Homo sapiens: one gene and its partners. The protein of the gene in region 1 purifies or fractionates together with the protein of each later gene. This does not show direct contact. Each region holds a gene or a part of one and is shown on either strand. Other genes may lie near its edges.

The links.
Region 2: the proteins of KLF3 (region 1) and ATP1A1 purify together in Homo sapiens (affinity purification with mass spectrometry, with the first as the bait; one large-scale study listed by BioGRID). This does not show direct contact.
Region 3: the proteins of KLF3 (region 1) and COX6B1 purify together in Homo sapiens (affinity purification with mass spectrometry, with the first as the bait; one large-scale study listed by BioGRID). This does not show direct contact.
Region 4: the proteins of KLF3 (region 1) and TFRC purify together in Homo sapiens (affinity purification with mass spectrometry, with the first as the bait; one large-scale study listed by BioGRID). This does not show direct contact.
Region 5: the proteins of KLF3 (region 1) and HSP90B1 purify together in Homo sapiens (affinity purification with mass spectrometry, with the first as the bait; one large-scale study listed by BioGRID). This does not show direct contact.
Region 6: the proteins of KLF3 (region 1) and CNBP purify together in Homo sapiens (affinity purification with mass spectrometry; one large-scale study listed by BioGRID and IntAct). This does not show direct contact.
Region 7: the proteins of KLF3 (region 1) and LONP1 purify together in Homo sapiens (affinity purification with mass spectrometry, with the first as the bait; one large-scale study listed by BioGRID). This does not show direct contact.

What each region holds. Positions count from the first base shown.
Region 1 is NC_000004.12:38,670,699-38,674,198, reverse strand, and holds part of KLF3 (Krueppel-like factor 3), read right to left. Parts: intron 1-3,500. UniProt on the Homo sapiens protein: Binds to the CACCC box of erythroid cell-expressed genes. May play a role in hematopoiesis.
Region 2 is NC_000001.11:116,400,744-116,404,243, forward strand, and holds part of ATP1A1 (sodium/potassium-transporting ATPase subunit alpha-1), read left to right. Parts: intron 1-117; coding exon 118-263; exon of another isoform or gene 264-386; coding exon 387-517; intron 518-810; coding exon 811-912; intron 913-3,140; coding exon 3,141-3,232; intron 3,233-3,500. UniProt on the Homo sapiens protein: This is the catalytic component of the active enzyme, which catalyzes the hydrolysis of ATP coupled with the exchange of sodium and potassium ions across the plasma membrane.
Region 3 is NC_000019.10:35,651,323-35,654,822, reverse strand, and holds part of COX6B1 (cytochrome c oxidase subunit 6B1), read right to left. Parts: coding exon 3,474-3,500; intron 253-3,473; coding exon 152-252; intron 1-151. UniProt on the Homo sapiens protein: Component of the cytochrome c oxidase, the last enzyme in the mitochondrial electron transport chain which drives oxidative phosphorylation.
Region 4 is NC_000003.12:196,054,591-196,058,090, forward strand, and holds part of TFRC (transferrin receptor protein 1), read right to left. Parts: intron 712-3,500; coding exon 490-711; intron 1-489. UniProt on the Homo sapiens protein: Cellular uptake of iron occurs via receptor-mediated endocytosis of ligand-occupied transferrin receptor into specialized endosomes. Endosomal acidification leads to iron release.
Region 5 is NC_000012.12:103,940,410-103,943,909, reverse strand, and holds part of HSP90B1 (endoplasmin precursor), read right to left. Parts: intron 2,501-3,500; coding exon 2,363-2,500; intron 2,282-2,362; coding exon 2,204-2,281; intron 2,079-2,203; coding exon 2,013-2,078; intron 1,384-2,012; coding exon 1,114-1,383; intron 837-1,113; coding exon 591-836; intron 173-590; coding exon 36-172; intron 1-35.
Region 6 is NC_000003.12:129,173,897-129,177,396, forward strand, and holds part of CNBP (CCHC-type zinc finger nucleic acid binding protein), read right to left. Parts: intron 1-3,500. UniProt on the Homo sapiens protein: Single-stranded DNA-binding protein that preferentially binds to the sterol regulatory element (SRE) sequence 5'-GTGCGGTG-3', and thereby mediates transcriptional repression. Has a role as transactivator of the Myc promoter.
Region 7 is NC_000019.10:5,706,647-5,710,146, reverse strand, and holds part of LONP1 (lon protease homolog, mitochondrial isoform 1 precursor), read left to right. Parts: intron 1-1,743; coding exon 1,744-1,805; intron 1,806-2,320; coding exon 2,321-2,450; intron 2,451-3,003; coding exon 3,004-3,087; intron 3,088-3,500. UniProt on the Homo sapiens protein: ATP-dependent serine protease that mediates the selective degradation of misfolded, unassembled or oxidatively damaged polypeptides as well as certain short-lived regulatory proteins in the mitochondrial matrix.

The DNA of each region.
Region 1 (3,500 bases):
AAAGCTAAGCACTGGCACCTACCTGGAATTTCCTACCTAGACATTCTTGGAAATTTTCATGCCACTCTGTGATTTTCACCTGTCCTACTCTTCTATGACTGGTTTGAAAAGGAGAAAAATTCCATGGGGTGTTTCTAAATCTTCGCCCCTCATGAATTAGTTATTTTGCATTAATGTGTATTATAAATGGGAAAGAAGTTAATTATTTCATTTCAGATGAAATATAATGATCCAGTGAGCAAACAACCCACCCTCTCTCCTCTCTCTGCTAACAAGCCACCCAATTTTACTTTCCTGCCTCCACCCATCTGCTCCACCCTATGGAGAGTTGCCAAGGCAAGTCCAACTTGTCCAAACAGGACATGGCTTCAGATAAGATTCTGCCCACACCCTGTACTTCGGAAAGACCAAGTGAAGCAATTGATTTTGCATGTCAATAAGGACAGGTGCAAAGGTAACAACCAAGCAGAAGCCTGACAAGTTTCCAAACTGAGGCCTAGCAAAGCAGGGCTGGGGGCGGGGACACCCACACCTATGCTACCCTCTAAGTTCAAGGCCATCTGGCTAGTGGCATTCCACACCCTTCTTAGAGAAACTGCAGCAAACTCGAATCATTTTCCCTACTAGGGTTACACACTTGTTTATGCTCTCTGACAATTTTGTGTTTTAGTTTTAAGGGCAGGCAACCCAAGATAAATTGAAAAATACCCATAATGTCTAATCCTGCTGTGTACATATCTCACAAGGCCTCGCCTAAGCCCTCACAATTCTCCTCTATGAAGTGTTATATAATCAAATCCAGAAGGGCTGCGTGAGGCCACACTGCCTCTCATCTGCCTCTGCTCAGTGCCCTCCCTATCACTGGAGACCCACCCAACTCCACCCTAAGGAGCCTCCACCCATGGGGCCCCACCCTGCAGGGAGTGGGAGGTTGGGAGGGACCAGTTGGCGCTGGGCAGCAGCCAGTTCCTGGAAATTCCGGCCTGAACAGGGATGGTTAGAATCTTAAAAATAACCAGAAGGAACCATGGGGCTGTGATCATTCCTCTGCTCCTGAGGATTCTCCACTGAAGTTCCTCCCAGAGAGCCACTGAAACTTTGGATACAAAACCATGAGCGAAGCCTACCCTCTCCCTTTAAAAATAAGCAGAAAAGAAAGAGAAAAGCATTTTGAACCACTGCTATCAACGTGGCCCAAACCAACCCTACCCCTCCTTGTTCCTGCCTCTAAGGCTGCCCCCTCCCCGCCTCCCATTGGCCTTATTTTCTGGTCCTTCACCATGGAAACCTAGAGGCCATCTCTGAAGCCTTCCTCACCTCCTTTGCTCTCCCCTCCTGCCTTGGGGGCCAGGCCCTCAGCGCCTCCCACCTGCATTGCTGCAGCTTTTCCACCACTGGTCTCCCTCAGCCTCTCCAGTCCAGCCCTCACCCCTTGCCACCCACGTTTTTCACAGATCTCTTCTCATCCCATCCTTCTCCAGCTCACAACCTTCCCTCCCGTGCACTCCCCGGGTCTGACAGTGGGCTCAGGCACCCATGCTTGGCACCCCGTTACCCACGAGCTGCCCCCTGCTCCAACAAGTGCCCTTCATGCCGGCTGCCCTGCCCACCCCCAGGCCTTTGTTCATTTTTGGCCCTGATGCTGGGCAACCGGCAATGGAATGCCCCCTCCCCTTCCGGCTTATCTAAATCCCCCTAATTCTTCAAAGACCAGCTCAAGGCCCTCCCCACTCTGTGCAGCCAGCTGATTGCTCCCTGGGGGATCCAAGGCCGCCTCTTCTTACCTAGATAGTCTAGGCCTCTTAGCTTTCCCAGTGGTGCGTCCCACACCGCCACCAGTACTGGGAAGGACAGACAGGCAGGCCTCAGCCTTCCTGAGAGGGCTCCCTCCCCACTCCCCACAGGAGATCGGGCTTGTTCCCTGAATGAAGTTTTTATGTCAAGCCTAAGGAGCTAACATAAGAGCACTTAGCTTATAGTAGGAGTTCCACAATCATCTCCCTTTCCCTCTGAATGCACTTGAAATCTCCCTTAAACAAGTAATAGGGATGAAGGGCCTAACTCTAAGGGAGACCTAGTAAACCAAACTTCCTAAGGAAAAGTTATTGCCCCTAACCTTAGCCTGGCCCATCATGTGTACTCCAGAGACCTTATTAGTACCATCTTCAAATAATTTATTATTATCCACTCAGTGAGGTCTTCTAAACAAGTCTAGTGTCGAGGTCTCTACTGTACTTTAAAATCTAAAATAGAAAAAAGAAAGCGAGAAAGGGAGGAGAGGAGGCAGGTGGGGGGGAACTGCAAGGGGAAGGGGTGTGTGCACAAACACAGGTTTTTGAAAAGGGATCAAGGAAGGCAAGGGGCTAAGTGATGTCACAGGTTTCCTGCCAATCACCACCACCTTCGTGATTGGCAATCCCCAGGCGCTGTTTAATGTCAATGAGGTGGTTACTACCTTCCCGTTTTACTGAAAAGAACACTGAAACAGAGAGGTCAAGTAACCTGCCTAACATCACACAGCTGCTAACTCGTAGAGCCAGGACTTGAACCCAAGGTAGTCTGACTTAAGACTGGTGGCCTTGGCACACCACTCTTCCACCTCCCCAGGCAGAGGACAACATTACACCACCAACAGTAAGTACATGATAGTGATTTCTGTGAACAGGTTGGTCCCCGGAGAAGACAGAACGTGGGGACAGTCTGTTTACATTAGTGACAGTTTCCACTCCTTCCAACTGGCCCCTGCTGCCCACCCTGTCTCAGTACGCACACTTGGATGCAAGATCAAAAGACACATTCTGAAGGCCCCAAATTAGGCAATTATTCTTCCTAGCCAGTGCACCTGCATTGTCGATATAACTGCTGAGAAAAATTGGCAGCTTGACCCAAGTAAATACGGAAATCCTCATAATAACTGCACAAAGGTGGAAGGGTCAGGTCCTCATCCCCATTTTAGAAATGAGGAAATGGAGGAACAGAGGTGAAATGACTCGCCCAATTTCACAGAGCTGGTTGGAGCTGCAGCCAGGAACAGAAGCGTGTCTGCCTGCAGACCCGGGCACTTTCTGTTCTGCTTCAGAGCCTGTGCTGTGGGACCGACTTTTAGGTAAAATCGCCTAATGCTGGGGTCTTTCCCCAGTAGGGAGGGTGTGGGTGTGCACAGCCACACTGGCCCATGGGAAGCAGTGCCAGGGGGAGGTTCCAGCAGGCAATTAAGATTTCAAAATGCCTTTTCAGGTTAGATCACTGTAGATCTACTCCATCCTATGGCATAACTCAGAGTAATGATTGCACATAATTTGAGATTAGCTCTAATAAGTAGGTACTCAATAAATACTTGTGAGATGAATAAATGAATGGATGTCAAACTACACTTCTCACATGCTAGGATAAATTAAGGGCAAGGGCCCTGGAATGATGGTACACCAGGTGTCCTACATGGAAACTCTGTCCAGCGGCTGGTGAAGCCAGCCTGAAACCTCATCTTCTAAAATGCAAAG
Region 2 (3,500 bases), on another chromosome or scaffold:
CAGGGGGAAACACTCCTCCATATGTGCTCTCCCAGGCCTGCTGCAGTAATCAGCTGAAGGCTATACAGGTACCCTTGTGTGTGAGGTTCTAGTAATTGGGTTGTTTTCCCAACTTAGGAATGATCCAGGCCCTGGGAGGCTTCTTTACTTACTTTGTGATTCTGGCTGAGAACGGCTTCCTCCCAATTCACCTGTTGGGCCTCCGAGTGGACTGGGATGACCGCTGGATCAACGATGTGGAAGACAGCTACGGGCAGCAGTGGGTGAGTGGGCACCTCTGACCTGACCAGTGTCAGAGCTCCTCAAGCCCCAGAAGACTGAGGCCACACTGCCACCAGCCATGCAGGTGAAGAGCCAGAGCTCATCTTCTGTCTTCTGCATTTCAGACCTATGAGCAGAGGAAAATCGTGGAGTTCACCTGCCACACAGCCTTCTTCGTCAGTATCGTGGTGGTGCAGTGGGCCGACTTGGTCATCTGTAAGACCAGGAGGAATTCGGTCTTCCAGCAGGGGATGAAGTAAGTAATGAAGGACATGTCAAGGCCTTGGCTCAAAGAAGGGGACTGGTGATTTGTAAACCCTTTGCCAAAAACTAAACATATGACACATATAGCCAGGTTTCTGGAATCTCTAGTTTATAGAGCAAATTTAGGAAGCAAGAAATGTAGCTTTCTAGTTTTTTCATCTGACCTCCAAGTTTTCAAGTACAGCTAATACATAAAGATGTTGATCTGCCATTTTAATGCATAGCATTAGAAGATAAACCTTTATTTGCACCTTTTAAGTTTTTTCTCCCCTACTTTGATTTTAGGAACAAGATCTTGATATTTGGCCTCTTTGAAGAGACAGCCCTGGCTGCTTTCCTTTCCTACTGCCCTGGAATGGGTGTTGCTCTTAGGATGTATCCCCTCAAGTAAGTTGATCCTCTGGTAGCTCCAAAAAGTATGAAATAGTATGTGTGGCTTTTCCCCCCATTACTTGTGGTAATAGTTGTTATTTTCAGAATTTTGAGTGGTATGTACAAAAATTCCTATGGGTTGGAAAACTGTGAAAGCTTGACATGTCAGTAAATCAGACTAACAAATCCTGAGGCTTCCATGATAGCAGCTAGTGTTTAGGATTTGGCCCAAGATAAGATAAAGCCACACAGGCTCTAGCTCCATGGAACTGCTCAACAGCGAACTGCATTGAGCACTCAGGTCTGCCACAGCTGTAGTCCAGTTGTCTTTAGAGGCCAACTGGGGGTATGCTGGAGCGTAGGCGCCCAGGCTCAAATCTTGATTTGCTTGCTTAGTCACTGTCCCATTACAAGTCATCCACCTTTCTGAGACTCTGAATACTCTGCTCTCAAAGAAAGAAGGTTGGAGAAACAGATCTGAGGTCCCTTTTACTTTATAATCAGTCATGGGTAGAGTTGATCAAAGGAAGCATACTGCTAGTCTTTGGCCTTAAACACAGTGAATGACTCTGCATTTCAGATAAACTTGAATTTTCAAAGAGGGTTTATCACAAACTCCGTTAGTTTTTTGCAACATTGAGTATGTTTGGTGATACCTGGTTGAGGTTAAGCAACTGCAACTTGATTAAAACGTGCAAAGCCACAGATTGTGGGACCCATTTACAAGTTCCTTTGAAGCTTTTGATTTAAAGCATTAGTCTCCTTTGAATTCCTGCTGTCCTCATCCTTGCTCAGACCCGTCTGGACCATCTCTCAATCCCCTGTTGCCAGCACTTCCTTCAGCTCATCTTATCCCTAAAGTAACCAAAACCCATCAGCCTCATTCACTTCCTGTGGGTTATGTGCAGACATCGTCTGTGGTGCAAGATGAGACTGGCATCCAGAGTCAGTCTCATTGTCCCAACCTGTCTTTATAGCTTTCTCTTGTACCCCTTACCCATCCAAGCTCATGTTAGGTGAATTCGGCTTTCTTCCTCTGCCTTTGTGTTTGGTAAGATCCTTCCTCCCCACATCCCTCCTTCTGTTCCCTCTTACCCTGCCAATCCTGATAGTCCCTTCAGGGCCGGTTTCCTTGGAGCTTGTCCCTCCAGGGCCTGTGCACTTGCACCTCTTCTCTGGCATTACTTGTTGCTTGTCATTTCACCTCCCTGCTAGGTTTTAATCTAGAAGGCATGGGCCACAGTGTCTTTCTTCTCTGTGCATCCCCAGCTCCCTACACAAAGCTGGTGTACAGCAGGGGCCAGCCATCTCCAAATTGAATTCTGTCAGCTTGGGCCATTATGTATCAAGATGGGGCTTGGAGAGGTCACAGAGCTTTCCAAAAAGGCTGGTGGAAAATTACACTGAAAAGGGGGCATTTCCATCTTCTGGGTCCTTCCCTGGTTTTTTTGCCACCACCAAAGAGATTGTTCTGACAGGTTCTGCCCAATTTTGGAAGGTGGTTCAGTTATTCGGTGACTGAGTCAAATGAGATCATCTCTCTTAGCTGCCTTGTCAGACACACAGGAAGAAGAGGAGACCACCGGAGTCCTGCCCAGGGACAGCCTTTCTCACACCATAGCAGGGAGCTGGTGATCACGGAGGCTGCCTGGAGCCTGTCAGCAGGCTAGAGACTGTGTGGCTCAGCCTCCAGGCCCCTTGGAAGCCTTCGGGCTCAGCTTTTTTCAGTCCCCAGGACCAGGCCTCAGAACACAGAGCTGATATCCCAAATGCTGTTGTCAGAGATCAAATTTGGGGAATGCATAAACTGGTTTTGACCCACACTGGCAGGTCTTTATCTTCAAAATGCTGGGATATTAGGCAGATGGTCTTAAAAAGCTTCTTAAACACTTTAGAAATGAAAGAAAGAAAATGTTCAGTTGCTCTGGGATGGTTAACAGAAAAGTACTCTGCTCATCCTATAAACCAAGTCTTATGAAATCCAAACTGAAGATGAGTAGGGATTCCATTACAAAGTCTGCAGACTGATTTCCTCTGCGTCTCTAGGCCCTGGGCACATGGAGTAGCAATCTGTTTTAAGACATTTTTATTTGTTCTGTTAATGACTCAGTAGTTAACTGTGACTGTACTTGGCTTCTCCTTTCAGGCTGATTATTTCATTGTCACTGGTGATGTGCAATTTCTCTTTCTTTATTTGAACTGTGTTCGTGTGCATATAAATTGGTACCTTACTCTATTTCCAGACCTACCTGGTGGTTCTGTGCCTTCCCCTACTCTCTTCTCATCTTCGTATATGACGAAGTCAGAAAACTCATCATCAGGCGACGCCCTGGCGGTAATTATGGGCATTCTGACTTTGGTTGGAGGAGGAGTGGGAGGGGCTATAGTTCTATTGGTTTTTTGTTTCCCTCAAGGTGTCTAGGCTCCCTCAGTGGTCAGTCTGATTAGCTAAGGTGACTGGACCAGCAAACTGACCATAGTCACATCTTCAGAATGTAGATCTCAGTTACAGTTTGAGGACTGGTCATGTTTTAGACTTTAAAATACAAACCAAGTATGATTTAGTGAAAACTTGTCAGAATCTAAACCATCTTTCCAGGTAA
Region 3 (3,500 bases), on another chromosome or scaffold:
TCTAGGCGGGAGGAAAGGCACTGAGTCCTGGGACAGTGTGGTGCCCTGTCCTCCCTCTGCCCCTCACAGATGAGCTCCCACCAAGCCACCACACTCCCCTCTGCTAAGACCCCACCCCAGCATCCCAAGGGCCCTGGCAGGAGGCACATACCCAGGATGTGGGGCAGAGGGACTGGTACACACGCTGGTACCATTCGCACACAGAGATATCGCCTCCTTTAGCGGTCATTGCCTTCTGACAGCGGTGGAAGTCTGTGAAGAAAGGGGTTCAAGTCAGCCCAGATCAAGAGTTGGAACACATTTTTTTTTTTTTTTGAGGTAGGGTCTCAATCTGTCACTCAGGCTGGAGTGCAGTGGTGCGATCTCAGCTCACTGCAACCTCTACCTCCTCCTGGGTTCAAGTGATTCTCCTGCCTCAGCCTCTCAAGTAGCTGGGATTACAGGCACCTGCCACCATGCCCAGCTAATTTTTGTATTTTTAGTAGAGACAGGGTTTCGCCATGTTGGCCAGGCTGGTCTTGATCTGCCCACCTCGGCCTCCCAAAGTGCTAGGATTACAGGCGTGAGCCACTGCACCCAGCAAAATTACATTTATAAAGATGTTTACAGCCACACCATTTGTAAGAACTCCAAAATGGAAATCACACAAGTGTACAGGCATAGAATAAATTGTAGAAAACTGGACAGCAATGAAAATGAGCAAGCTATATGCCACAGCATGTATGGATCTGAGAAGGTACTGAATGAAAAAATCCAAACACAAAAGAATACACACAGTATGTATAAAGTTCACAAAGAGGTGAATCTAAACACGGTGGTAGCCGGGCATGGTGGCTCAGGCCTGTAATCCCAGCACTTTGGGAAGCTAAGGCAGGTGGATCACTTGAGGGTAGGAGTTCGAGACCAGCCTGGACAACATGGTGAAGCCCTGTCTCTATTAAAAATACAAAAAAGTGGCTGGACCTAGTGGCTCATGCCTGTAATCCCAGCACTTTGGGAGGCCGAGGCAGGCAGATCACGAGGTCAGGAGATAGAGACCACGGTGAAACCCCATCTCTACTAAAAATACAAAAAATTAGCTGGGCGCGGTGGCGGGCACCTGTAGTCCCAGCTACTCGGGAGGCTGAGGCAGGAGAATGGTGTGAACCCAGGAGGCGGAGCTTGCAGGGAGCCGAGATCACGCCACTGCACTCCAGCCTGGGCGACAGAGCGAGACTCCATCTCAAAAAAAAAAAAAAAATACAAAAAATTGGCCAGGCACGGTGGCTCACGCCTGTAATCTCAGCACTTTGGGAGGCCGAGGCAGGCAGATCATGAGGTCAGGAGATCGAGACCAGCCTGGCCAACATGGTGAAATCCTGTCTCTACTAAAAACACAAAAAATTAGCCGGGCATGGTGGCACGCGCCTGTAGTCCCAGCTACTCAGGAAGCTGAGGCAGGAGAATTGCTTAAACCCGGGAGGCGGAGGTTGCAGTGAGCCAAGGTTGTACCACTGCACTCCAGCCTGGGCAACAGAGCGAGACTCTGTCTCAAATAAATAAATAAAATTGGCCAGGCATGGTGGCTTACACCTGTAATCTCAGCACTTTGGGAGGCTGAGGGGGGTGGATCACGAGGTCAGGAGTTTAAGACCAGCCTGGCCAAGATGGTAAAACCCTGTCTCTACTAAAAATACAAAAAAAAAAAATTAGCCAGGCATGGTGGCAGGCGACTGTAATCCCAGCTACTCGGCAGGCTGAGGCAGAGAAGTGCTTGAAGCTGGGAGGCGGAGGTTGCAGTGAGTCGAGATTGCACCACTGCACTCCAACCTGGGCGACAAAGCGAGACTCCGTCTCAAAAAAAAAAAAAAAAAAAAATTAGCTGGGTGTGGTGGCGAGCGCCTGTATTCCCAGCTACTCAGGAGGCTGAGGCAGGAGAATCACTTGAACCCGGGAGGCAGAGGTTGCAATGAGCTGAGATCGTGCCATTGCACTCCAACTTGGGCAACAAGAAACAGACTCCATCAATAACATAACAACATAACATATATAAAATAAAATAAAATAATAAACATGGTGGTAAAAAACAAAGATGTGAGGCCGGGCACAGTGGCTCACGCCTGTAATTCCAGCACTTTGGGAGGCTGAGGTGGGTGGATCACCTGAGGTCAGGAGTTCAAGATCAGCCTGATCAACATGGTGAAACCTTGTCTTTACTAAAAAAAAAAAAAAATACAAAAAATTAGCTGGGCATGGTGGCGGGTGCCTGTAATCCCAGCTACTAGTGAGGCTGAGACAGGAGAATTGCTTGAACCCAGCAGGCAGAAGAGGTTGCAGTGAGCCGAGATCGTGACATTGCACTCCAGCCTGGGCAACGAAAACAAAAAACTCAGTCTCAAAAACAAAAACCAAAACCAAAAACAAAGATGTGATAACCCCCAGTTAGTGGCGTCACTTCTCTACTGGGGAGAGCGGGGTGCTGTGTTCCAGACAGGACATAAAGAAGGTGGGGAGGCCAGGCGCGGTGGCTCATGCCTGTAATCCCAGCATTTTGGGAGGCCGAGGCGGGTGGATCACCTGAGGTCAGGAGTTTGAGACCAGCCTGACCAACATGGAGAAACCCCGTCTCTACTAAAAATACAAAAAATTAGCTGGGTGTGGTGGCAGGTGCCTGTAATCCCAGCTACTTGGGGGACTGAGGCAGGAGAATTGCTTGAACCTGGGAGGCGGAGGTTGCAGTGAGCCAAGATTGCACCATTGCACTCCAGCCTGGGCAACAAGAGCAAAACTCCATCTCAAAAAAAAAAAAAAGAAGGCAGGGAGATGAGAGTGTGGGCAATGTCTGCTTTTCTCTCCAGGTTATGGTTGCACAAGGGGTTCACTTTAGAATTATTCATTTAGCTGTACATGTTTGTTATGTGCTTTCTGTACATGTTACAGTACGCACACACATACAGCTTAAAAAAAAATCATTGTAGGGGCCAGGCACGGTGGCTCACACCTATAATCCCAACACTTTGAGAAGCTGAGGCAGGAAGAGCGCATGAAGCCAAGAGTTTGAGACCAGCCTGGGCAACAAACTGAGACCTCTTCTCTACAAAAAAATTAGCCAAGTACAGTAGTGTGGGCCTGTGGTCCCAGCTACTCGAGAGGCTGAGGTAGGGGGACCTCTTGAGCCCAGGAGGTTGAGGCTGCAGTGAGCTATGATTGCACCACTGCACTCCAGCCTAGGTGACAAAGTGAGACCCCATCTCTGGAAAAAAACAAAACCAAACCATAATAATAATAAAAAATTTAAATTAAAAAAAAAATCATTGCAGGAACTAAAGTTTGTAACCCTAGCCTGGACCTGAACAGCAGGTGATGAGAGGCATGGGCCTTCCAGAGTAAGGATGTTCAGAATAAAAGGGAGGAGGCTGGGGTGGATGGGTCCCCTAGGAAGAGGCAAGCGGTGAGTGACTCGAGGTATGTGGCCAGGGAAAGGTCCTGCTTACCCAGGTAGTTCTGCCAGCAGTTTCTAG
Region 4 (3,500 bases), on another chromosome or scaffold:
GACTCCAGCAATCCTCCTGCCTCAGCAGAAGTAGCTGGGGCTACGGGTATGCACCACCTCACCCTGCTTATCAGTTTCGTTTAATAGAATATTTGACTTTTAGATGCGCAGATCACTACGAGATGGAATCCTGCTAGCTGTGCTGTCTTTCCATCCGGGTCACGCCCGAGAGGCACACAGCCCAACTCCTTGCTGAGATCTTCATATTCCGTGTCCTACTGACGGGCTGCCTGGGAGACATGAGTGACAGAAAACCTGACACTGCTCTGGATTCTGAAACACCTGCTGAGCTCTGTCCTAGGTCTCTAATCCACAGCCTCCCGACTTCTCTCAAACAAGTTACCAATTCTACATACAATTATACCTCAGTTCACTTTAAAATGTACTATGGCTACAATCACCCTTCCAACAGGAACACACAGGAACACATCACATTTCAAAATACTTGACATTCAGCAAAATAAAAACGTAATTGGAATCAGTGCTCACCTTTATGTCTGCTCTGTATTGGTTCAGATCCCTCACAAATGAAAGCAGTTGGCTGTTGTACCTCTCATAGTCCAGGTTCAATTCAACATCATGGGTTAGTTTAATCACGAACTGACCAGCGACCTCTGCAGCTGCTCGTGCCACTTTGTTCAACTCAGGAATCCTCTCAATCAGTTCCTTATAGGTGTCCATGGTGGTACCCAAATAAGGATAATCTGTGTCCTGCAAGACAACGCGAGGCTATGGTACTCACGTGAGTTCTAAGAGCAAGAGCCTCACATTCTGGCTTCGCCATCGAGGTAACAGTGACGACAGTTCCACCCTTGCTTCTAACATATTCCTACCGCAATTTACCCCAATTCTATCTCATTATCTGCTGCTTTAAGTACATTCTTGCTACTTCTCTCAAGCTAACCTACTCCTAGAGTGACTACTTTCTTCCAGGTTCTACAGAATCCCTGTTCTATCGTATCATATGCCCTGAATAGACTTCTAGCCAAATTCCTTAAGGCTGTATGTTTTTCTCTCTGGGAAGTTTGGGCCTTTATCAATGAAAAAAGAGAAGATACATGAAACATACCTTGAGACGAGGTCTCTCTGTCACCCAGGCTAGAGTGCAGTGATGCAATCACGACTCCCCACAGCCTTGAGACAAGGTCTCTCTGTCACCCAGGCTAGAGTGCAGCAATGCAATCATGACTCCCCGCAGCCTTGAGACAAGGTCTCTGTCACCCAGGCTAGAGTGCAGCGATGCAATCATGACTCCCTGCAGCCTTGAGACGAGGTCTCTCTCTGTCACCCAGGCTGGAGTGCAGTGATGCAATCATGGCTCCCTCTAGCCTTGAGACGAGGTCACTCTGTCACCCAGGCTAGAGTGCAGTGATGCAATCACAGCTCCCCGCAGCCTTGAGACGAGGCCTCTCTCTGTCACCCAGGCTGGAGTGCAGTGATGCAATCATGGCTCCCTGCAGCCTTGAGACGAGGTCACTCTGTCACCCAGGCTGGAGCGTGGTGATGCAATCATGGCTCCCCACAGCCTTAAGCTCCTAGCTCAAGTGACCCCCCTGCCTCAGCCTCCCAAGGAGTTGGGACTACAGCTGGCCACTGGGCCACTTAATTTAAAAAATTTTTTGTAGAGATATAGTCTAGGCACGTTACCCAGGCTGGTCTCACTCCTGGCCTCAAGTGATCTGCCCACCTCAGCCACCCAATGTGCCGGAATTATAGGTGTGAGTTACTGCACCCAGCCTGAGGAAAATACTGTTCAGCTGGACTGTCCAATAGATAGCCACTGCTCAATCACTCAAGAAATTCAGCCTTGGTTTTTTTTTTGTTGTTGTTAGACGATCTTGCTCTGTTGCCCAGGCTAGAGTGCAATGGCACGATCTCGGCTCACTGCAACCTCTGCCCCCTGGGTTCAAGCGATTCTTCCACCTCAGCCTCCTGAGCAGCTGGGATTATAGGCATGTGCCACCATGCCCAGCTAATTTTTTTGTATTTTTAGTAGAGATGGGGTTTAACCATGTTGGCCAGGCTGGTCTTGAACTCCTGACCTCAAGTGATCTACCCGCCTTGGCCTCCCAAATGCTGGGATTACAGGTATGACCCACCACACTCGGCCAAGCCTCATTATTAAAACTCATAAAGAAGTTTTAGCAATAAACTCAAATGCTAATTAAGCTAATTGAGATTAACAAGTCTATGTTAAAACTAATAATGAAGGAACATGCAATAATTACATGTGTATAACTTTTTTTTTTGAGACAGGGTCTTGCTCTGTCACCCAAGCTGCAGTGCAGTGGCTCCATCTCAGCTCACTGCAACCTCTGCCTCCCAGGTTCAAGCGATTCTCCTGCCTCAGCCTCCTGAGTAGCTGGGGTTACAGGCACACGCCACTATGTCCGACTAATTTTTGTATTTTTAGCAGAGACGGGGTTTCACCATTTTGGTCAGGCTAGTCTCAAACTCCTGACTTCGTAATCCGCCTTCCTTGGCCTCCCAAAGTGCTGGGATTAAGGGAGGAGACCACCCCTCATATTGTCTTATGCCCAATTTCTGCCTCCAAAGAAAGAAGAAGTAAAAACTAAAAGGCAGAGGTGGACAGCCCAGCGCTGCCGCACCCTGGTCCTGGTTAAAGATCGAGCCCTGACCTAACCAGTTATGTTATCTATAGATTCCAGACATTGTATAGAAAAGCACTGTGAAAATCCCGTCCTGTTCTGTTCTGTTCTAATTACCGGTGCATGCAACCCCCAGTCACGTACCCCCTGCTTGCCCAATTGATCACGACCCTCTCACGCAGACTCCCTTAGTTGTAAGCCCTTAAAAAGGTCAGGAATTGCTCACTCGGGGAGCTCAGTTTTTGGAGACGTGAGTCTTGCCAAAGCTCCCAGCCAAATAAAGCCCTTCCTTCTTTAACTCGGTGTCTGAGGGGATTTGTCTGCGGCTTGTCCTGCTACAGGATTACAGGCGTGAGCTACCACATCCAGCACATGTGTATAACTTCTTAAAACATTTTAAGCACTGCAGTAAATTTGGTCTCAAAGTTGACACAAGAAGATCCATGGCCAGGTGTAGTAAGTAGCTCTTGCCTATAATCCAAACAGTTTGGAGGCTGAAGGGGGAGGACTGCTTGAGGCTGCAGTGAGCCATGATCGGGCCACTGCACCCCAGCCTGGGTGACAGAGCAAGTCACCATTGTCAAAAAAAAAAAAAAAAACAAAACAAAAAACAAACAAAAAAAACCCAACAACTAAGATATGTGCAAGTTGTCAAAATCAAAATGGAGTCACTAGTGTTAACAAAAATGCAACCCTGAAGAGAAGGGTCTCACCCTTGTATGTCTGATAACAAGGATTAAGGGTTTTTTTTTTTCCTTTTTACAAAAACTACAACCTTACACAAAGGCCACTGCAACCTTGCACCAAAAAACTTCTCTCGTGAGAAAATCTGCCTAGCAACTGCCTGTCAACCTTGGACTGGTGTCATCCTTGTTATTGATCTTGGTAGCC
Region 5 (3,500 bases), on another chromosome or scaffold:
AACGCCCTGGCAGGGACTTTCCCGAGGATGCTTACTTTGTAGAGATGTCCTTGCCCGTTTGGTACGCTTGTGCTTTCATGATTCTCTCCATGTTGCCAGACCATCCGTACTGGCTGGCCACCAAAGCACACGGAGATTCTGTCAGGCGCTGAGACACCACAGCCTTTTCAATCTTAGGGAAAGAAATCAAGTCATATAAATTAATATCAACAGGTAAGGTCATTGAGCAATTGTCTTTCAACTGTCTAAGACTTTATCACTTAAGATCATAAACACAGAAGCAGGTCATAAAAATAGCTTTTCTTAAGGTTTAGGAGAATTTGTAGGGGCACTTACTTGATAATCTGAATTTTCTAGTCAGAAGTTTAAATACCACCTTTTAAAAACATAAAATTTAATTTGTAACAAGTTATTAACAAAGCAGTATTGTCGAAAGTTTTAAGCTTTCTCCCAATAATTTAATTACATTAATTAAATTTTTACCATTCTAATGGTTACAAAGTAACCAGCTGCAGCTTAATTTGTTCACAAAATAACTTTCTCTTAAATGCTGATACTAATATTTCCACAATTTGTAATTTCCACAGTACCTTGTCCTTAAGGGCTTTATCTTTCATCCAATTCAGCAGAGGCTCAAATTCTTTCTCAACTGCTTCACGACTCTCCTTAGTTTTCTCACTTTCATCGAACTTCACTCCTTCCTTGGCAACATTCTGGAACCTCTTCCCATCAAATTCGGGAAGGGCCTGAATACAGTATTCATCCACAGGTTCTGTGAGGTAAATAACTTCATAGCCCTTTTTCAGAAGTCGCTCAACAAATGGAGAAGATTCAGCCTACAAAATTAAGAAGTCACAAAGTTTTCCAAGTCTGGCCCTGGTGTATTTGTTTATCCTAGCAGCTGCTATGTTTATACATTATTAAAAACTCCATTTTACAGGTGAAGAATTAAGAGGTTCAGAGAATATAAATGACCTTCCTGTCAGTGACTGACCAGGCCTTATAACTACTCCAGTTACACAATTAAGTTTTCCTTTTCTCCCCCTCAAGAGTTGGCTATAAATCCCTAGCTACCTTCCAGAATGGCTGACAACACTTATGAGTTCATCTCACCTCTTTTCTGCTGGACCCAGCCATGAAGTAGATTTTGTCTTGTTTTTCCTTCATTCTTTCCACATACTGGTCTAGGCTAGTAATGTCAGTTGGATGATGAGAAGACTGGAACCTAAGAAGTTTAGCAAGACGTGTTCGATTCGAGTGGTCTTCAATCACACCAAGCTTGATGTTGGTACCAAATTCTTTCCAAAAAGTATCATTGTATTTATCATCAGCAATCTTCTTGATCATGTCCAGCGTTTTACGAACAAGCTTCTTCCTAATCACCTAAACACAATGAAAGAATAACTGATTAGAGAAGTTAATCTCCAACTTTTGAGAATGTAAGGTACCCAGGCAGGAGTGTGAAAAACACAAAGACGATATCGTTATTGCCATTTATTGAGGGGCAGGAAATGGTGAAGCACTCCAATTCATTCAGATTGGGCTGAAATTCAGCTGTCCGTGCAAATAGCCACAAGATTGCCTTAATGTTTATATTCTAACCTTAGGACTCAGTGATACTCTCTCTCTAGCATCTAAATGAAGTGAACAAATATGCTACTTTCAAATACTTTTAAATTCAAAAACTAAAGAGTCTTCTAATTATGGAAGTATTGGAGGGGAAAGGTTTAATGAAAGGCTTGATAAAAAGGTGGCTATGTGTCTAGATGACAAAATGTTAATCCTGGACCTGTACAATTCTTTAATTTTTTTCTAGATGTTTGAAACTTCATTATTAAATGTTGGGAGAAAAAGAATCAGATTCTTAGGATCTGATAACTCCAGAAAGAAAGGAAATTCATCTGAAGAATCATGGACCAGACCCAAAATCTGGTTTTACTCCACAAATGGAGCCTGTCCTCTGAACCCCAATCAAACAGCAAAGTGGAGAGTTTCTTCCCAGAGACACTTACCTTAAGCAGTTTATGTTGCTGAAGAGTCTCGCGGGAAACATTCAAGGGGAGATCATCTGAGTCCACCTTCAGATGGCAAAAGAAAGTTCAGTGAGCAATAAAACCACTGGAAGAAAGCAAAGCCAAACAAACACTCTACACTGCCAGACCCCCACAACAATCACCCCTTCTCCCAAACTTCAGATACTTACCACACCCTTGACAAAATTGAGGTATTTAGGCATCATATCATGGAAGTCGTCTGTGATGAATACACGGCGCACATAGAGCTAAAGAGACCAAAAAAAAGTCACTTTCTGGAAATTAAACTTTCAAATTTTAAACGCAGCATGTACTACTTAAAAACTCACCTTAATGTAATCGCTCTTTTTAGATCCATATTCGTCAAACAGACCACGTGGAGCAGATGTGGGTACAAATAAAATTGATTTGAAGGTAACTTCCCCTTCAGCAGTAAAGTGAATATAAGCCATGGGGTCATCACTTTCCTGTGGAAAGTTGGTATCTTAGTCATTCAAACGACACAGGAGAAAAGCAGTGCAAGAACTAAGCAATGTACTATGTGGTACATATTCAGTTTAGCAATTAACTAACAAAAAATTTTCCTTTACTGGCGGGAGGTGGGGAAGAGAAAGAAAAGGGTGGGGGGAAGAGAAAGAAAAGGGTGGAGTGAAGAAATATCTAGAATTGCAATTCTAATTCACTAGACATGGTTGTTTTGATGATGATTGTCAATAACATTATTTCCTAAACTCTCAGAAGGAAGGATGAGTTTATACTTCTTACGTATGAGAGAAGTGAATAGGAAAACCACCACCCTGCCTAAATGACAAAATTACATACAACACTTCAGTGTGCCCTTGAACTACAGTAAGTACTCAAGAACATGTTTCTTCCATGGAACTTAGCTCTAAGAGTGGCTACAAAGATGTATGTAAATACCTGTAAAACAAAGTTGGAAATTCTCTTGATCTGCATTATCTATTACTGTATATGGCTGTTAAGCACTGAAATGTAGCTAGTTCAAATTCAGATGTGCTATTAAAGTGTAAAATACATTTTGAAGGCACAGTACAAATTTTAAAAAGGATATAAAATGTCTCATTATTAGTTTTTATATTGATTATGTTGAAATAATACTATTTGGGGTATGCTGGGTTAAATAAATTATACTATTAACATTTCATGGTTCCTTTTTTTGTATGGCTTCTAAAAAATTTCAAATCATGTGTGGCTCACATTAATTATATTTCTAATACAGCTGCTTTATATGAAGTAAGTTTATAGACACTAGGACTTTAGAGTTTATGGAAATAAAAGTGAAGGCAGAACCAACAGTGTTTTAAGAGTTGAAATTTAAAGGATATGGAATAGAGAAAAGAACAAATACAGACACAGAATATTAAGTTTTATTTAGCTATGGTTAAGTCCACTAGAGCATTCTACTGCTTGTACTAAATGCTGCTGGGGAAACATTAACTTTAAACA
Region 6 (3,500 bases), on another chromosome or scaffold:
AAAACGCAGTCCGAAAAATGGCAAGGTTCTCCACTTTCAGTAACTGTTTAATCATTAACTTGTGGACAAATTTAGTGACTTAAAATTACACTGAAGTTGAGTTTCAAAAAGTTCCCATTGTCAAATATACAAAAGAAAATAACACAATACTCACTTACCCCAACTCTGTGTAATCTGATTTAGGATAAATTCTTAGAGAAATCTTTCTACTAACTCTTGCCACTTGCCTATGAACATATTACCAAAAAAATTATATGGCTATGAGTTACTGGTGCTTTCAGATATACAAAACATTTCTAGTCAGAACAAACAGCCAGTGAAGGATATTAAAAACAGATTTTTACAGAATTTGAAATAGTATCTGCTTTGTAATCATTCTTTTAACTGTACTAGTATTAGCATCCTAAATTATGTGAAGTATTTGCTGGTTTCCACCACAGAAGAGTCAGAATTAAAAAAAAAAAAAAAAAAAAAAAAACGAATGGCGGGCAGGGCACGGTGGCTCACACCTGTAATCCCAGCACTTTGGGAGGCCGACGAGGATGGTTCACCTGAGGTTGGGAGTTCGAGACCAGCCTCACCAAGAAGGAGAAACCCCGTCTCTACTAAAAATGCAAAATTAGCCAGGCTTGGTGGCTCATGCCTATAATCCCAGCTACTCAGGAGGCGGAGGCAGGATAATCTCTTGAACCCGGGAGGTGGAGGTTGTTGCAAGCCAAGCAATTGCACTCCAACGTGGGTTACAAGAGTGAAACTCCATCTCAAAAAAAAAAAAAAAAAGGCATATAAAATGGTCAAAGAAAAAAGGCTGCTTATGGCACCACTTCCTCCCCATCTTCATTTTGTATCTTCTCCAATTTAGTCAGATCAGCTTGAGCTCATTTAACTATTGATCTCAAGGAATTATTTGCACATAAATGATTACTTTTACAGTGTAATCCAGACAATTTGCAAGGCCTGAATATCTTATAATTTAATATTTAAACAAGATACATCTCTTTTAGAAAATACAAAACAAGGATGGGCACAGTGGCTCACACCTGTAATCCCAGCACTTTGGGACGCCAAGGCAGGAGGATCACCTGAGGTCAGGAGTTGGACATCAGCCTGACCAACACAGTGAAACTCCATCTCTACTAAAAACACAAAATTAGGGCAGGCGTGGTGGCTCACGCCTGTAATCTCAGCACTTTGGGAGGCAGGCGGATCATGAGGTCAGGAAATCAAGACCATCCTGGCCAACATGGTGAAACCCCAAATCTACTAAAATAAAAAAATTACCCAGGCGTGGTGGTAACGCGCCTGTAGTCCTAGCTACTCGAGAGGCTGAGGCAGGAGAATCGCTTGAACCCGGGAGGTGGAGGTTGCAGTGAGCTGAGACTGGGCCACCACACTCCAACCTGGGTGACAGAGCAAGACTCCGTCTTCAAAGAAAGAAAGAAAGAAAAAAAACTATTCTGTAAAACAGATATGCATCTCAGTGGCAAAGGCAGAACTTTACACACTAGAATATAACAGAAGTTTTAGATGTTTTGCTTTTTTTTTTTTTTTTTTGAGACAGTCTCGCTCTGTCACCAGGCTGGAGTGCGGTGGCGCCATCTTGGCTCACTGCAACCTTCACCTCCTGGGTTCAAGCGATTCCCCTGCCTCAGCCTCCCACATAGCTGGGACTACAGGCGTGCACCACCACGCCCAGGTAATTTTTTGTATTTTAGTAGAGACGGGGTTTCACCATGTTGGCCAGGATGGTCTCGATCTCCTGACCTAGTGATCCACCCGCCTTGGCCTCCCAAAGTGTTAGGATTACAGGCGTGAGCCACTGCGCCCAGCCTGTTTTGCCATTTTTAGTCACACATAATTTTGTTTACTAGAGTAAATTAATGCTAATAAAGAAAACACTAAGTCTTAAAAGGGAAGAAAAACATTAATAGCCTCCAAATGTCATCAACATGACACGTGATTTTAAAAGAGGTCTTTGAGTGGCCTTAGGTACTATGTATGCAATCTGCCCTCTCCTCCCTTTGGCTAACCCTATCGCAGTGAATCAGGTGGTCTACAGTTTCACTGGTAACTGGTCCCTTGTGATAGACTTGTCTCTTTAATAACATTATTAAACTAACCACTTTCCACAATGTTTTAGACTCACACTACTTATATTAGGCAGCAGGTCCCCATCCTAGCACTCATCTCATATGAACATTATTTAGTTTAAAGGTCTTTACAGAATTCCATGATATTCCTTAGGAAAACTAAGGTAAGGTAAGACAGCTGAGAATCATGGCTCCATGAGTCTGTCTCATTGCCTGTGACTGCTCCTGGCTGGAATTTCACTGCACTGTCCTGGTCTCCCCTGCTCCTTTTCCACCTGTCACAACTTTTTCCAACCTTCACGGGCCAACTCAAATGCCAACTCTATAAAAGAATCTGACTACATCTCCCAGCCTGGAACTACCCTCCCTATTAAGTCCCAAGACACTTTGTTAATATCTGTCTAATGGCAGTACCATATTGCCTTGTATCATATTCCTTGAAGGTAGAGACCAAGTAATTCACCTTTGAATCATCGAACACCCCATATAGTTATCCTTTTAGTAGCCATTATGTAACTCAGTATTTTAATTCTAGGGGGACAGGTGTCTTTAGCAATTTGGTGAAACTAACTGACCCAATCCAATCTAATCAAGTACTAACAACAAAGCACCTAAATTATTGCTATCAGTCACAAGAGTTACTGCACCATTAATTTAAAGTAATGATGTATTCTCAATTTTGTACTCACTAAGGACTGACTACAGTCACTCTCTGAAACTCTCAGCTTTCTGAAATCATAGGTGAGATTCTGCCCAGATGAATTTAGGATCCACAACTTTCAGCTTCTGACAGGGATTAGGGCCAACCACTCAAAGGACATTCCCAATGTAATTTTTTTTTAAATCCACTAACAGAAGTATCTTCTACTTGTCAATGTTATTTTGAGGATTCCAATCTATAATAAAGCAAATACTAGAAAATATCAAAGGAAGAAAGCTGCTGAATCATAAAACCATGAAAATTAGATTTCAGATTATCTAACACAATCCCCACGTGTGGCTGAGAAATTTACACCCAAGACAACTAAAAAAGCCAGCAACCAGGCCAGAACCTCTAATTTGTCATCCAGGTTCTGTTAGTCCAAGAATTCATAATCAATTGGATTTCAGTACTATTTTATGCAAGCTACAAACATACATGCTAACTTCAATAAAAACCAAAATACTGTTTTTCACTTTTGTCAGGCAGCAGGAAAACACTTAAGTTTCTTCCTTTTGCTAAAAACCACTAATATAAGGCACCACTTACTGAAGGTTCCTTGGGTTTGTGTTTTCTCTGGAAAAAATTTTTCGTGAAACCTGATGTACGTATACTGCACTGATGTAGCCTGCCTGACACTGTAAGAGATTTTGGAACCATACTCAACCTGGGTTAATCACTTAACCCAGTTTAACTACTTGCTGTGTTAC
Region 7 (3,500 bases), on another chromosome or scaffold:
GCACTATTGCATTCCAGCCTGGGCAACAAGAGCAAAACTCTGTCTCAAAAAAAAAAAAAAAAAATTCAGACAGCCACCAGCGGCTACACTGTCCTGGGCAGCTCAGCATTGGGGCATTCCCTGTGAGAATCTTGCAACAGGGGGAAGACAGCGACCAAACTTACAAATGTGATTAGAACTGGCAAGACCCCTTAGGGGCAGCGAACTTGTTCTTTTTTTTTTTTTTTTTTTTTTTTTTTGAGATGGAGCCTCTGTCGCCCAGGCTGGAGTGCAGTGGCGTGATCTCGGCTCACCGCAAGCTCCACCTCCCGGGTTCACACCATTCTCCTGCCTCAGCCTCCCCAGTAGCTGGGACTACAGGTGCCCGCCACCACACCCGGCTAATTTTTTGTGTATTTTTTAGTAGAGACGGGGTTTCACCGTGTTAGCCAGGATGGTCTGGATCTCCTGACCTCGTGATCCGCCCGCCTTAGCATCCCAAAGTGCTGGGGTTACAGGCGTGAGCCACTGTGCCCAGCTGAACTTATTCTTAAAGCAAGTGCCCCGGACCTCCAGTGGGCCTGTTCTGGTGCCTTCTACCAGGGTCAGCTCAGACAGTTCAGCGTCAAAGCCAAAGACTAGAGACCAGGTGATTACGGTTTCTTTGGAGACAGAGTCTCACCCTGTCACTCAGACTGGAGTGCACTGGCGCAATCTTGGCTCATGGCAACCTCCGCCTCCTGGGTTCAAGTGATTCTCCTGCCTCGGCCTCCTTAGTAGCTGGGATTACAGTCACCCACCAAAGTACCTGGCTAATTTTTTTTTTTTTTTTGGTATTTTTAGTGGAGATGGGGTTTCACCGTGTTGGCCAGGCTGGTCTTGAGCTCCTGGCCTCAAGTGACCCACCTAACTCTGCCTCCCAAAGTGTTGGTGTTACAGGTGTGAGCCACCGCGCCCGGCCAAGACCAGGTGATTAAAATTTGGTTGTAGGCAGGTGCAGTTGCTTATGCCCGTGGTCCCAGCTACTCCGGAAAATGAGCGGGGAGGATCGCTTGAGCCCAAGAATTCAAGGCTGCAGTGAGTCATGATTGCAGCCCTGCACGCCAGCCTGGGTGACAGAGCAAGACTTGGTCTTTTTTTTTTTTTTTTTTTTTTGAGACAGAGTCTCGCTCTTTCGCCCAGGTTGGAGTGCAGTGGCGCGATCTCGGCTCACTGCAAGCTCCATCTCCTGGGTTCACGCCATTCTCCTGCCTCAGCCTCCCGAGTAGCTGGGACTACAGGCGCCCGCCATCACGCCCGCCTAATTTTTGTATTTTTTGGTAGAGACGGGGTTTCACTGTGTTAGCCAGGAGGGTCTCGATCTCCTGACCTCATGATCCACCCGCCTCGGCCTCCCAAAGTGCTTGGATTACAGGCGTGAGCCACCACGCCCGGCCAAGACTTGGTCTCTTAAAAAATGGAGGAAAGAAAACACAGTCTCTTTTTTTCCCCTGAGATAGCTTATCCTAAGGACAAGGCTCTGAGGGGTAAGGAGACAGGGTTTGGTTTTAGTTTTGACTCTCTTGGTCCTGTGTCCCTGGGACTGGTGAGTCCACCAGGGACTGCACTCCTCCATCTCCCAGGCCGTCCGTGGCCAGGGCCAGTTGGCGGAGGGGAGGGAGTTGATGGAGCTGGTGGGTGGGGCTCCCAGGGCCATGCTCCCACCCAGCCCACCCCCTGCTGGAGCACTGCTGGGCCCCAGCGACCCTGCCCCATACTTGGCAGGCCCTGACTGCAGAGATCGTGAAGACCATCCGGGACATCATTGCCTTGAACCCTCTCTACAGGTGGGCCTCTGTGCGGGCAGCTGGCCAGGCGGGGGCATCTCTGCAGCTCTTTCTGCAGCTGGGTGGGTAGGGGGCTTCCTCAGCGTCCTCCTGGGAGGAAACCTTGCCTGCCCCAAGGAGTGGCCTGTGTGGAGGAGCCCGTTGCCCACTGGGGCATGGGGCAGGTGGGAGGCCCGGGGCCGACTCAGCAGGCCCAGTTTCTTTGTCCCCTTCTGCTGAGGCCGGAAGCTGTTGGTGGCATTGGCTGGGGGAGTGGGGAGCAGACTGCTGAGGTGAGGTCACTGCACGGCTCCCGTGGTGGCTGCACGTGAGGATGCTGCATGCCTTTCCAGCCCAGGACGGGTGGGCCCTGAACTCTGGAGAACAAGCAGCAGAGCTGGCTCCCAGCGAGCACCCCTAGACCGTGCCCATAGCTACAGGGGACAGGGACCCTGAGGACCGGGTCCCCGTTTGGGGGCTGCACTGCAGCAGAGCGTGAGGCCCTGGCCACCGAGGCAGCTCCCTTTGTCCCCCAGGGAGTCAGTGCTGCAGATGATGCAGGCTGGCCAGCGGGTGGTGGACAACCCCATCTACCTGAGCGACATGGGCGCCGCGCTCACCGGGGCCGAGTCCCATGAGCTGCAGGACGTCCTGGAAGAGACCAATGTGAGTGCTCGTCACCTCCACAGCCCCCCACGCCTGGCTGCACCCCACCTCCACTATGCTCCGCCCACGCCCGGCTGCCCCCGTTCCTCCTCAGCTCCCCCATGCCTGGCTGCCCTTGTCCCTCCACCGTGCACCATCCACACCCAGCTGTGTGTCCCTGGCTCTGTTTTTGAGATGATTTCCCGCTGCGTGTCTTGGTCCACATCCATCCGCCTTTCGGTGGCTTCATAGCCTTCGGTTGGGAGTCACCGTTGCGGGTTCAGTGGGATCCTCTGGGCCGTGTACCCGGGGCGTTGCCAGTCTTTTGCTGTTGTGAGCAGCACTCCTGAGCGCGTCCCCATGCACGCAGCTGGAGGGCCTGTGAAGTATCCGTAGGATGCGTTTCCAGCACGGGATTTGTTGGGGCAGAGGGCACACATGCCTCTGTGCTGGGTACAGCATGGCCAGGTCCTCCCGGCAGCATCTCTCAGGGTGCGCATTTTCCCCCAACCTCGGCCCTACACACACAGATGCCGACTTCTGCTCATCCTTTCTGTCCTCCCTGTCTCGGCAGATTCCTAAGCGGCTGTACAAGGCCCTCTCCCTGCTGAAGAAGGAATTTGAACTGAGCAAGCTGCAGCAGCGCCTGGGGCGGGAGGTGAGCCCGCGGCTGAGGCGCAGCCACTCTTGGGGGCCTTCCCCTCGGGCCACGTGACATCAGTCAGGCTCTGGAGCACACGGAGGGACCGGTGGCATCGGCCAGGGCAAGCCAAGAAGGCCTGTCTGGGTTTTGAGGGCTTCGTGCCATCATCTGCTCTGTCGTCCTGGGCTGTGGAACTCTCCGCGTTGAACAGGGAAGCTTAAAGCTGGTCCCAGTGTAATGAGCCCAGGGTGGAGCAGTCTCAGGACCGTCCAACATTAAGGGAAGAATTCCTTTGCCTTTGTAATCTTGGGGACAGTGTTGGAAATTGGAAAGCAGCCTGGGAAAAGTGAAGATGCTGTTTCTTAAGACCCAGCCATTGAGGCTCGCTGTCATGATTTTCGGCAGATCACAGCCTGCCTGATGGCCGG